Linked DNA regions of Homo sapiens. The protein of the gene in region 2 interacts with the protein of the main gene of each other region in a pairwise test. Each region holds a gene or a part of one and is shown on either strand. Other genes may lie near its edges.

Evidence for each region.
Region 1: the proteins of MPRIP (region 2) and PPP1R12C interact in a two-hybrid assay, tested with the Homo sapiens proteins (one study listed by BioGRID).

The regions. Positions count from the first base shown.
Region 1 is NC_000019.10:55,090,229-55,093,731, forward strand, and holds the end of PPP1R12C (protein phosphatase 1 regulatory subunit 12C), read right to left. Parts: intron 3,006-3,503; coding exon 2,925-3,005; intron 2,849-2,924; coding exon 2,788-2,848; intron 2,641-2,787; coding exon 2,555-2,640; intron 2,435-2,554; coding exon 2,394-2,434; intron 2,317-2,393; coding exon 2,214-2,316; intron 2,099-2,213; coding exon 1,994-2,098; intron 1,682-1,993; coding exon 1,631-1,681; intron 1,473-1,630; coding exon 1,422-1,472; intron 1,331-1,421; coding exon 1,244-1,330; 3' UTR 690-1,243; downstream 1-689. UniProt on the Homo sapiens protein: Regulates myosin phosphatase activity.
Region 2 is NC_000017.11:17,037,512-17,045,471, reverse strand, and holds the start of MPRIP (myosin phosphatase Rho-interacting protein), read right to left. Parts: upstream 3,016-7,960; 5' UTR 2,720-3,015; coding exon of another isoform or gene 2,624-2,719; coding exon 2,501-2,623; intron 1-2,500. UniProt on the Homo sapiens protein: Targets myosin phosphatase to the actin cytoskeleton. Required for the regulation of the actin cytoskeleton by RhoA and ROCK1.

The DNA.
Region 1 (3,503 bases), on a different chromosome or scaffold from region 2:
GTTTTTTGTTTGTTTGTTTGTTTTTGAGATGGAGTCTCGCTCTGCTGCCCAGGCTGGAGTGCAGTGACTCGATCTTGGCTCACTGCAACCTCTGCCTCCCAGGTTCAAGCGATTCTCCTGCCTCAGCCTCCCAAGTAGAGTAGATGCGATTACAGGCACCTACCACCACGCCTGCTAATTTTTGCATTTTTAGTAAAGAAGGGGTTTCACCATGTTGGCCAGGCTGGTCTCGAACTCCTGACCTCAAATGATCTGCCCGCCTCGGCCTCCCAAAGTGCTGGGATTACAGGCGTGAGCCACCACACCCGGCCAAAATTCCAGATTTTTACACACAAATTTCTCCAAATGTTAAATGTTGGCAATTGACTAAATTTGTTTCAAAGACACTGATGGCAAAACCCAAACTCCCCAGCTCCACATCCTTGGCCCCAGAGGTCTTGCCCGCTGATCCCTCCTGCCCCATCAGCTTCCCCTCAGCCCCCCGCCTGCGATCACGCGGGCTCCGTCTTGGAGCCTTCGCTCCCGCTGGGGGCTCATCCTGAAGCTCCTTCACCACACAGGTGAGTAAGCACCAGCCCATCCCCCGGCACCCACCCAAGTGGCCCAGTGGTTTGGTCATGGACACGCACGGCCCCCCAGCAGGAGCAGGAAACAGTGCCCTCCCTCTGGCTGGGAACACAGAGCTTGAGTGGCAACTTCACGACTTTTATTTGTGGTGCCTGTGCTTTATCTCGAAAATACCTTCTCCCCCTGCCCCAGACAGTGGGCGGGGAGGGGGCAGCAAAAAATAGAAGACGTCCCTCCCTATTGCACATGGACCCTATATACAGGCCCACCTGGCTGAGGCTGGCGGGACTCTTGGCACATTCTTGGATCCCTGCTCAGGAGGGGAGGGGTGACGGGGTGGCATCACACGTGAGATGGGGACCTCCAGGCGGCCACTCTGGTCCTGGCTACTGATCCTTGCACTTCTTGGTCCTCAGTTCCTTCCTGGTCCCGTCTCTGGCCCTGGTCCCCTCTGGCAACGTCCCCCTGCTTGGCTCGGCCTCCCACCTCCATCCTGGCCTCGGGTGGCCCCCTCGGCTCCTGGGGACTCTGCTCCCCTCCCAGTCCGGAGGTCCCAGGGGGGCTATGGCTTCTCTGAGACTTCCCCCGGAGCCCTGTCACTCGTGTTCACACGGGGGAAGGGGTGCGTGTGGCAGAAGCAGCTGTATAAATACGGGTGCGGGAAAGTCCCTCCGGGTCACTTGGAGAGTTTGCTGATGACGCGGATCAACGCTGCATTCTCATCCTTGAGGCGCTGGTTGTCAGCGCGGAGGTCAGACAGGGCCTGGGGGACGGCAAGGGTCAGCTGGGCAGCCCTGGCGGGTTGCACCCCCACCCACCCTCGGCCCTCTGCCCACAGCCCCCACAGCCCCCACCTTCAGCTCCTCCTCCAGCTCTGCGGCCTTGCGTTCCAGGGCCCTGCGCTCCTGGAATGAACAGGGAAAGTGCAGAAACTGAGTGAGGCTGAGGAGGGCAGGGGAAGGCCAGGGGCCAGCTGGGAAGGGCAATGTGGCTCCCTTGGTCCAAACTTAGGGATGTGAGGCTGGGGACGCCTCTGGCCCCCATCCCCACTGCCCCTACTCACGAATCTCTCCAGTTCCAGGAGGGCTGGCCTCTCAGCGAAGCGTTCTTGCCTCTGGTGAGGACACAGAAAGCACAGGGGTCAGCAGAAGAAGCCAGCACTGCTCTGAAGGGTCCTAGGCTCCTGCTGGGCACCCGCCCGCCCACTAGGCAGCCCACAAGCCCTTCCCCCACGGGCCAGGCCCCGCCACCGGCAGGCCCACAGCCCCATCCCCTCGCTCAGACTCCGCCTCCGAGATCTCGGCCCCGCCCCTCAAGTGAAGCCCAGCCCCGCCGGCACCCCCAGGCCAGGCTCTACCTCCCAGCAGTCTAAGCCCCACCCAGGCGGCCCTGCCAGTTCCCGTGACCCTGGCCTCGGCGCCCTTACCTGCGTGGCCCGCTCCAGCTCCACCTTGAGCTGCGCCAGCCGCAGCGTGGTCTCGGTCAGGGCCTCGCGAAGCCGCTCGTTCTCCCTGCGCAGCTCTGCATACAGCTGGGGGTCAGGTAGAGGAGGGTCAGGTGGAGGATGGGGCGATGCTGGGGGGGCGGGGAAGCCAGGAAGCTGGGCACCCAGCAGGCAAAGCCCCGACGGAGGGGTGGGATCGCACCGTCCTAAAGCCTCCGTCTGGCTCTTCCGATTCTGGCTCAGGTTCTGGGTTGAGGTCCCGCTGCCACCGCTGCCTGCGGGCCGAGGGGCCGCCCTCCAGGGTGCTGGGGCAGGGGAGGAGCGCGCGTCAGGGGCCGGCCCGGCCCGCACGCAGACCCCACCTCTCCCACCCCGCCCCTACCTGGACTCCTGGCTGCGGTCAGCCGGCTCCGCCTCCTCCCCCTGTGGGCAGGTAGACGGGGGTTCAATGGGTATGGGAGGGACTTTAGCGGGTATGGGAAGGGCTTTGCCCGCCCCCCGGCCCACCCTCTGCACCAGCTCGGCCCCACCTGAGCCCCTCACCTCCGCAGGCCCCCTCCACTCCTTTCCGACCTTGCGGTGCTCCCTGGCCGCCTGCGGTCCCGGACCCTGCCCGTCGGGCGCCTCTGCTGGGGGAGGGGCAGGAATCAGCCCAGGCACCTCCAGAGCCCCCTCTCGGTGCCTGGGTCCCCGGGTCAAGCCCCCAGGAAAGCAAGAAGACTATGGGAGAAACTGGATGATTCCCTGGGAATGACCTCCCCGAGAGCAGACCTCACCTCTCTGGGCAGGGCTGTCAGAGTTCTCCACTCCAGGGACGCGGGGCCTTCGGGAAGGGTCCTGTCGGGAGGGGGAGGCGAGTCAGGGAAGCAGGACATCCCGCACCACCCCACTCGCCCTCGCTGACCCCTCTCACCAGGCTCTGCGCCGGCTTCTCTGACTCTGGGGCCTTCCCTGCAGCCTTCTCTGCCTCCTTCAGGTCTGTAAGAGTCACACCCTGGCAGGGAAAGGGGACAGTCAGGGGACGCTGGGGTCAGGGCCCAGCCCCTCCTCCCTCAGACCCAGGAGCCCAGGCCCCAGCCCCTCCTCCCTCAGACCCAGGAGCCCAGACCCCAGCCCCTCCTCCCTCAGACCCAGGAGTCCAGACCTCCAGCCCCTCCTCCCTCAGACCCAGGAGTCCAGGCCCCAGCCCCTCCTCCCTCAGACCCAGGAGTCCAGACCTCCAGCCCCTCCTCCCTCAGACCCAGGAGTCCAGGCCCCAGCCCCTCCTCCCTCAGACCCAGGAGTCCAGACCTCCAGCCCCTCCTCCCTCAGACCCAGGAGCCCAGGCCCCAGCCCCTCCTCCCTCAGACCCAGGAGTCCAGACCTCCAGCCCCTCCTCCCTCAGACCCAGGAGCCCAGACCCCAGCCCCTCCTCCCTCAGACCCAGGAGCCCAGGCCCCAGCCCCTCCTCCCTCAGACCCAGGAGCCCAGACCCCAGCCCCTCCTCCCTCAG
Region 2 (7,960 bases):
CTCTGGGTTTCAATCTTCTCACCGGTAAGAGGAAGTGGTTACATTAGCTGATCTCCAAGTCCCTTCCAGGTCTGATGCCATAATACAGTCCCTGCAAGAGGTTTCTGTGCCTCTCTAGGGGAAAAACAAACAAACAAAACCCACAGCTGAGGAAATAAACCTCAAACCAAAAGGCTCAGAGAAATGTCTGCTCCTGGGAAGATGACATCTCCAGAGCAAAAGCCGGCCAAGGCTGCCCACCACCTCCCTGGGCCCAGTATCCTCTCCTCTTAAGGAGGGAGTGGCCTCGATGGTGGCTGATGTATCTTCCAGCTTTGACGGTCTAAAATAAGCTCCAGGCTGGGAGGGGCAGCAGGAAGCAGGGGCTTGGGGGAGACTGATGGGAACCGATTGGTTGAGGTTTTCTAATGGAGCCATAAGGATGAGAGTGAGAGGGAGGGCCGGATGCAGAGAGCAGCAGAGAAGGCTGTTGGCAACAGCCCTGAGTCTCCCTCCTCTCTTTTCAAGAGCAGTTTCTTCCTGAAAGATCCCAGGAGGTAGAATGCTGGGCTAACCTCTCCCAGCACAAATAACCCCACTCATTATTTCAGAAACTACCATTCCAGTTGTGCCCTGAAGGTCTCAGGCCTGTTTCAAAACCCACAATTCAACTTTGAATACAGTGAGAGTACAGTATTTTAAGTTTGCCTCTCCCCGTGAATCCAATTAATAATCAACAGATTAAAAAAAATCTTAGCAGATTGGACTCAAACATGCAGATTCCATCCTAGTTTATCTAAGCTTAAGAATTCGAAAACAGCCCCTATGAGGTGTAAATTTACCAATTTTGACAGTTGCTTAGAATAACCAGGAAACTTACAAACCTCTCTCAGAACAACCCTTGCCCAGAAACTTCTTAAAGTGGCAGGTTTTTTTGGTTTGTTAAATTGTAAGAGAAAAAAGTTTCATAAAATATCATTTCTTGCTTTTCACAAATGCTCAGTGAAGGAGGTAAGCCAGGGACCAGGATTCCCAATTTACAGATAAGGAAATTAAAAGATACAGAAGTAAAGGGATTTGTTCAAGGTCACACAGCTGGAAGTGACAGCCAAGACCTGAAGCAAAGTCTCCTAACAACTCCTCATCGCATAAACTGTTTCATCCAAAAAAGCATCCAGATGAGAAGAAGGAATCAAGTTCTCCTTTACACTCCAAAACACCCTCCGAGGTAAATGAGTTCTATCCGTCCCAAGCTGACCGTCCTTAAAACCCTTGGTATCTTAACCATCTATGACTTTGCAGCCTTGAGTGTTTCGTTAAGCTTTTGGGGTTTAGATGAAAGGAATCTTTTCCTGGCAGTTGGAAACCTGACCTCAGAGAAAGGCCCCGTGCCCCAGGCCGTAACCCCTGCCCCACCACCCTACTCCAGTCGGCCATGTAAACAAGTCAAACCCTGGGTGCACTGAAGTGGCATTAAAAACAACCAGGCCCGTTCACTCGTTTTCAGTCTAAGGGGTTCTTCTGCGACAGGAGTGGCTACAACTAGGTCACACTGGACTGGAATGTGAAGGGACTTCCCCTGGCTTCATTCAGGAGGCTGAGAGAAAGCTCTGAAGAGGATGGAGATGATGGCCGTGGGGAGGGTACCGAGGCACATCCCAAGGAGGTGCACACAAGGCTCGGAATCCTGGAACACTAGGAGTTCAAACAGCAATCACTGCAGGGGTTCCCAAGGGCCATGGGGGCTGCAGCCAAGCCTCTTGGAGCCTTTCATCAATACAAATTCCCCATCTCCCCAGTCACTCCAGGGCGGGGGCCCCAGAACTCTGTGTTTAATGGCTATGACTCTAATGCACGTTTGGGAGTCATAACTAGTTCAAAGCCCTGTTTGACAGTTAAGGCTGGGAGACAGAAATCAACTTTCCCGAGGACCCACAGGTCTCCTCACCCCTCGGCCAGTGACCAGGGAACTGGTCCCAGCTCCCCGCTAAACTACGGCCTGCCAAACTAAGTTCAAGAACAAGACCCTCCTCGCCAGATTTGGACACCCCTTCACCTCTCTCCAGTGCTTGACAGTGACGATGATTCAGAATCGGGGCAGGCTGCGTCCCACTAGACGGAAGCCCACAGTCCTCCCCAACAATCCGACCCCTGGGCCACTCTGGCTGGACAAATCCAAGTCCAGTCCCAAGCCAGAATCTCAGGGGGGTCCCGTCAAGCGGCATGCAATCCCTAAGCGCTTTGTTCCTACTAAGCGAAACCAGGCACTTTTGAGTCACCCAAAAAGCATGAATCACACAGCCGGGCAATGGGAACGGGAAAGGATGTTATTTTTCGGCATACTCGAGGATTTTCCCTTTGTCCCAGCTCTGTCAATGCACTTCCCGTCCCCGTCCCCATGCCCCAGGACTCGCGCATTTCCCTGCTCCATTTTTATTTTCCCTGCAGCCCTTGGCGGCGCCCCGGCCGCCGACCCGCGGCTCCCAGAACGGAGGTGTCCGGGCCGGCCCCAGTCGCTCACCTGCGTCAGGTCCTCGTCGTTGAGCAGATGCGACTCGCGGGGCTTGAAGCAGTTCTGACACTTGCTCTTGTTGAAGATGTTGGCCTGGAATTTCCTGCACGGGTTCTCCTTGGCTGCCGACATGGTCGGCGCGGCGGCGACGGCGGCGGCGGCGGCGGCGCAGGCCTGGCCGGCCTGGCGCTCCCGGCGGGCTAGGGGCTCAGCGCGGCCGCGCCGCATCCCTCGCCGGCCCCGCCGCAGGCCCGGCCCGGCCTCCTTCCCGGCGGGCGGTTCGCTGCACGCGCCGAGGCTCCTGAGCCGCCCGGGCCTCACAGCGCGCGCGACGCCCAGCTCCCGCCCGCACCGCCGCCGCCCGGCCGCCGCGGGCCCATGGACGCGGCCTCGGGCCCGCTGCTTCCCGCTGCGGCCCGCCTCTCAGGCTCCGGTCGCCGCCGTCCCGGCTCGTCCGCGCCGCCGCAGCTGCCCTCGGCGCCCCGCGGCCGCTGCAAATGGGACCGGAGCGCCTCACGCACTACGGGGGCGGGCGGGCGGGCGGGCGGGCGGGCGGCCGGGCGCGGGGAGGTGCCGGGGCGTACGGGGCGGGGCCGCGCCCGACGCGATCGGCAGCCCCACCGGCCAATGGGGTTGGCGCGCTCTCGCTAACAAAGGAACCTCTGGGCCAATGGCAGTCGGGGGCGGGACCGAGGGCCGCCGAGCGCAAGGTAAGTTGTGCAGGCCGGGAAGGTGGGGGCGCCGGCATGGGACGTTCAGGTTTGGTGGACTGGCGCCGAGGCCGGCCGGGCTGACAGCTGCAGGGCCCGGGCGGGGGATGCGGGGGAAGGCGGAGCCGACCTCAGGCTGCCTCTCTGCAACCCCCTCGCTCCCAGGCTCGCCTTCCCGCGCCCACGCTGTACACCCAACGGAGGCATCTTCCCCAAGCCCAGCTCGGAGAGGATTAGTTTAGCACCTACTGTGTACCAGGCCCCCTCGTAGGAGTCAGTTAGCGTCGGGAAGGGCTGGATACTCCAAGGGCTCGCTCATTAAAGGTTCGCAACCTCTCCTTTCTCATCCCCATTTTACATAGGAGGAGACTGAGGAGCAGAGAAGTAACAGCGGGTAGTATTTCAAGGGATGACTAAGAGAAGATGTCAGCGGACTTGAAGAGCTGTCAGCTCCATTAGGGGAGATGAGCGAAGGCTGACTCTCTGCCAGGTGCTGAGCTAGGCATTCTTTCCCCCATGATGTGCTTGAGGAAATGAAGGGTCAGACACCTGGAGTAATTTGTGTAGGATCACTCTGCTAGGAAGGGGCCGAGCTGTCACTCCCGTCCTCCATTGTCCAGCCTCCTGGCCAAAAGACAACCTGGAAAAGGCTGTCAAAGGCTCAGGCAGAAGGTTGCAGGAGCCCAGAGAGGGGAGAAATGCGCTCTTTAGAAAAATTCGGGTGGCTTCAAGGAGGAGGGGAAGTTTAAGTGGACAGTGAGAGGGTTGAGTGTGGCTGGAAGTGGAGATAGGGGAAGAAGGAGCAAGAGGGATTGGAAGAGGGCTCTATCACCCAGGCCTTGTATTCCAAGCCCAGGCGTGCACATGTCATCCCACTGGCAGCTGGGAGTCATGGTGAGTCTTTAAACAGGGGGGTGAGCTAACCCAGCCTTCACGGAGGAGGTGACATTGGAGCATGTGGTAGTGGCAGCCACAGCAGCTGTCGCTCAGGGAATGGAGGAGGTTTTAGGAGGAGAAGTAGCAAATGCTTCCAGAGCTGTGTACTTTTCCACGGATCATCTGGTAAATATCCCAGGGAGGTGGATTTCAACTTAGTGTAAGAAAATGCTTTTCCTCAAAAGGGAGCTGTGGGAAGGCAGATCAAAGTCCTTTGGCAGCCTAAGGGGGAAAGCCCAGCTCCACCAGGCAGGAGCTCTGTGGCCTCGGGCAAGTCCCTTAACCTGCCTGGTGCCTCAGTGACCTCATGTACAAAATTGGCATTAATTAATTAATGTGAACATTAAATGATATAATGCTTGTTAAGTAGCATAATGTTAATTGGTGAATCTAGGCAAAAGGTGTTTATTGTACTATTCTTTTTTTTTTTTTTTTTTTTTTTTTTTTTTGAGACGGAGTCTCGCTCTGTCGCCCAGGCTGGAGTGCAGTGGCGGGATCTCGGCTCACTGCAAGCTCCGCCTCCCGGGTTCACACCATTCTCCTGCCTCAGCCTCCCGAGTAGCTGGGACTACAGGCGCCCGCCACTACGCCCGGCTAATTTTTTGTATTTTTAGTAGAGACGGGGTTTCACCGTTTTAGCCGGGATGGTCTCGATCTCCTGACCTCGTGATCCGCCCGCCTCGGCCTCCCAAAGTGCTGGGATTACAGGCGTGAGCCACCGCGCCCGGCCTTATTGTACTATTCTTGCAACTTTTCTGTTGCTTTAAATTTTTGCAAAATAAAAAAGGGACGGAAGACTGACAATTCTGCCCTGCAGAGAATACTCAGAAACTGATAGAAGAGGTGGCCACTGGGGAGGGGAGCTGGGTGGTTGAGAGGTGACCTACTTTTAATTTTCATTGCAATCCCTTTTGTTTCTGCTGAATTTAGTATTGTCTGCATGTACAACTTGTTTAAAAATATATATATACATACATATATATATATATATATATATATATTTTCTTTCTTGATGTCCTGCCCATTCCTCAAGGCCACCTCCCTTAAAGTGCTCAGCATGTTCTGCTCAGGTCAGTAGGCACATCCAGCACCTGCACTGGACTGGAGGGGTCCACAGTAGGGGCGCAAAGAAGAGTTTCATTCAGCAACTCAGAGGCAGCCTGCCCGGCAGGAGCCCACACTCAAGCAAGTGGAGACAAACAGAAACAGGAGACAGAGAAGTTCAATCCGGGGTGTTGTGGGGGCCCACACAGGGGCACCCAGCCCCGTAGGCAGCTTCAGGGAAGGCTCCTGGAGGAGGCAATGCCTAGGCCGAGTCTGGAGCTGAGTAAGACCCAGCCAGAGAAGGTGAAGGGAAAGACACGTCAAACTGGGGCACCAATTATAGAGTCTCAGGCCTTGAAACCAAAGGGTGTGTTCATGAACAGAAGCAGCTTTCTATCACTGGGTAGTTCAGAGAGGCAGGAGTGACCAGCATTGAGAGGCACTGGGAGGAGTAGTGGATGGTGCAAGCCTAGCCTCTTCAGGGAGACAGGTATGGTTTTTGTTGTTAATACTATTTCATCTCCATTTTATAGAAGACACACACGAGGCTCAGGACATATCAGGAACTTGCCTGTGGTCACAATTATAGATCCTACAAGTGAAGATTTGAGCCCACACAGGCCAGCACCGGAGCTGCCTGGGCCAGGGGCAGTCATCAATTTTGAATTTTTTTCGGCTGAGCACTTAGGTAAGGGCTGCTGATCTGGAGAATGAATCAGGGGCAAGGACTGAGAGAGCTGCAGAGGAGAGAGGGTAGCAGCCTGACTAGGATAGGGTCAGTGGGAGGCAAGGGAATGAATTTGGAAAATGTTTAGGAGGTAGAATCAATTAGTTGCGCTCCTCTCCAAAACCCTCACGGTAGAGTGGGGTCTTGGTTGCTACTCCATTTCCCCTGTCTAGTTCAGTGCCTGGCATAGAGCAGGGGCTCAAAAACACCCCATGGGGGTGCAGTGGCTCACACCTGTAGTCCCAGCACTTTGGGAGGCCGAGGCGGGCGGATCATGAGATCAGGAGTTCGAGACCATCCTGGCTAACACAGTGAAACCCTGTCTCTACTAAATATACAAAAAATTAGCCAGGCTTGGTGGCAGGCGCCTGTAGTCCCAGCTACTAGGGAGGCTGAGGCAGGATAATGGCATGAACCCGGGAGGCGGAGCTTGCAGTGAGCCGAGATCGTGCCACTGCACTCCAGCCTGGGCGACAGAGTGAGACTCTGTCTCAAAAAACAAAACAAACAAGAAAAACACCCCATGGGTGAATGGATGAAAAGTCATCGTTCCACCTTGTATTGTAATATCTCCTCCACCAGATTATGAAATCCATACCGACACAGTCTGTGTCTCATAACCTTGGCTTCCCTTTCCAGGGGCCTAGAACAGCACTTTGCATGAAGTTCAATACTCAGTGTAAACATGTAAAGATTCACTGGGCTGTATGCTTTTTTCACTGCATTGTGTACACCTCAATGTATATTGTTTATCTCAAAAAAGCAAATAAGCAAGCAAGCAAGAAAAGGCCGCTCAGGTGAGCCCCAAATGCAGGTAAGTCTTGATTTGTGGCTCTGACTGCCATCCTGGGAAGTTTTCCCTGTGTCCTGTTAGGGAGCAGAATTTACACACAGATACCCAGAGGTAACCACTATTTTGATCTCCATCACCATAGATGAGTGGAATCCGCTGCGAGCTATGCCTGGCTCTTCTCATTCAACAGTATGCCTGTGAAATTCAATCCACACGGCTACTGTATATATCAGTACTTCATTCTTTTTCATTGCTGCCTGGTAGTCCCTTGTGTGGAAATACTACAATTTATCTGTCCATGTTCCCGTGGATAGACATTCAGGATGTTTCCAGTTTGGGGCCATTATGAATAATGCTACGAGTATCTTCGTGCTTGTCTTTGGTGGACATAAGCACTTCTTTCTTTTTTTTTTTTTTTTTTGTTTGAGATGGAGTCTCGCTCTTTCGCCCAGGCTGGAGTGCAGTGGCACGATCTTGGCTCACTGCAAGCTCCGCCTCCTGGGTTCAGGCCATTCTCCTGCCTCAGCCTTCTGAGTAGCTGGGACTACAGGCACTCGCCATCACGCCCGGCTAATTTTTTTTGTATTTTTTTAGTAGAGACGGGGTTTCACTGTGTGAGGATGGTCTCGATCTCCTGACCTCGTGATCTGCCTGCCTCGGCCTCCCAAAGTGCTGGGATTACAGGCATGAGCCACCGCGCCCGGCCAAGCACTTATTTCTATTGGGAATACCCAAGACTAGGGATGGCTAAGTTTTGGGAAGTGAATGTTTAACCTGATGGGAAACTGCCAAGCAGTTCTCCACACCTGAGAGCTGGGCTCTCATCTCGCCCTTTTTCTGCTAATCATTGATAATAAAATTCATCTGGAGGAATGTGTGAATGCTACAGGTTTCCAGGGCCTCCCATGGAATTGTGTATCTGTTGGAGTGCACGAATCTATTTTGTCATTGCTATTGAGACAGGGTCTTACTCTGTCGCCCAGGAGTGCAGTGGTGTGATCTGGGCTCACTGCAGCTTTGACCTCCCAGGCCCAAGTGATCCTCCTACCTCAGCTTCCCAAGTAGCTGGGACTACAGGAGTGTGCCACCTTGCTTGCTAATTTTCCTGTAGAGACAGGGTCTCACTATGTTGCCCAGGCTGGTCTCGAACTCCTGGGCTCAAGAGATCCTCCTGCTTCAGCCTTCCAAAGTGCTGGGATTACAGATATGAGTCACTGTGCCCAGCCGAAGAATCTGTTTTTAAAATATTTCTGCTAGGC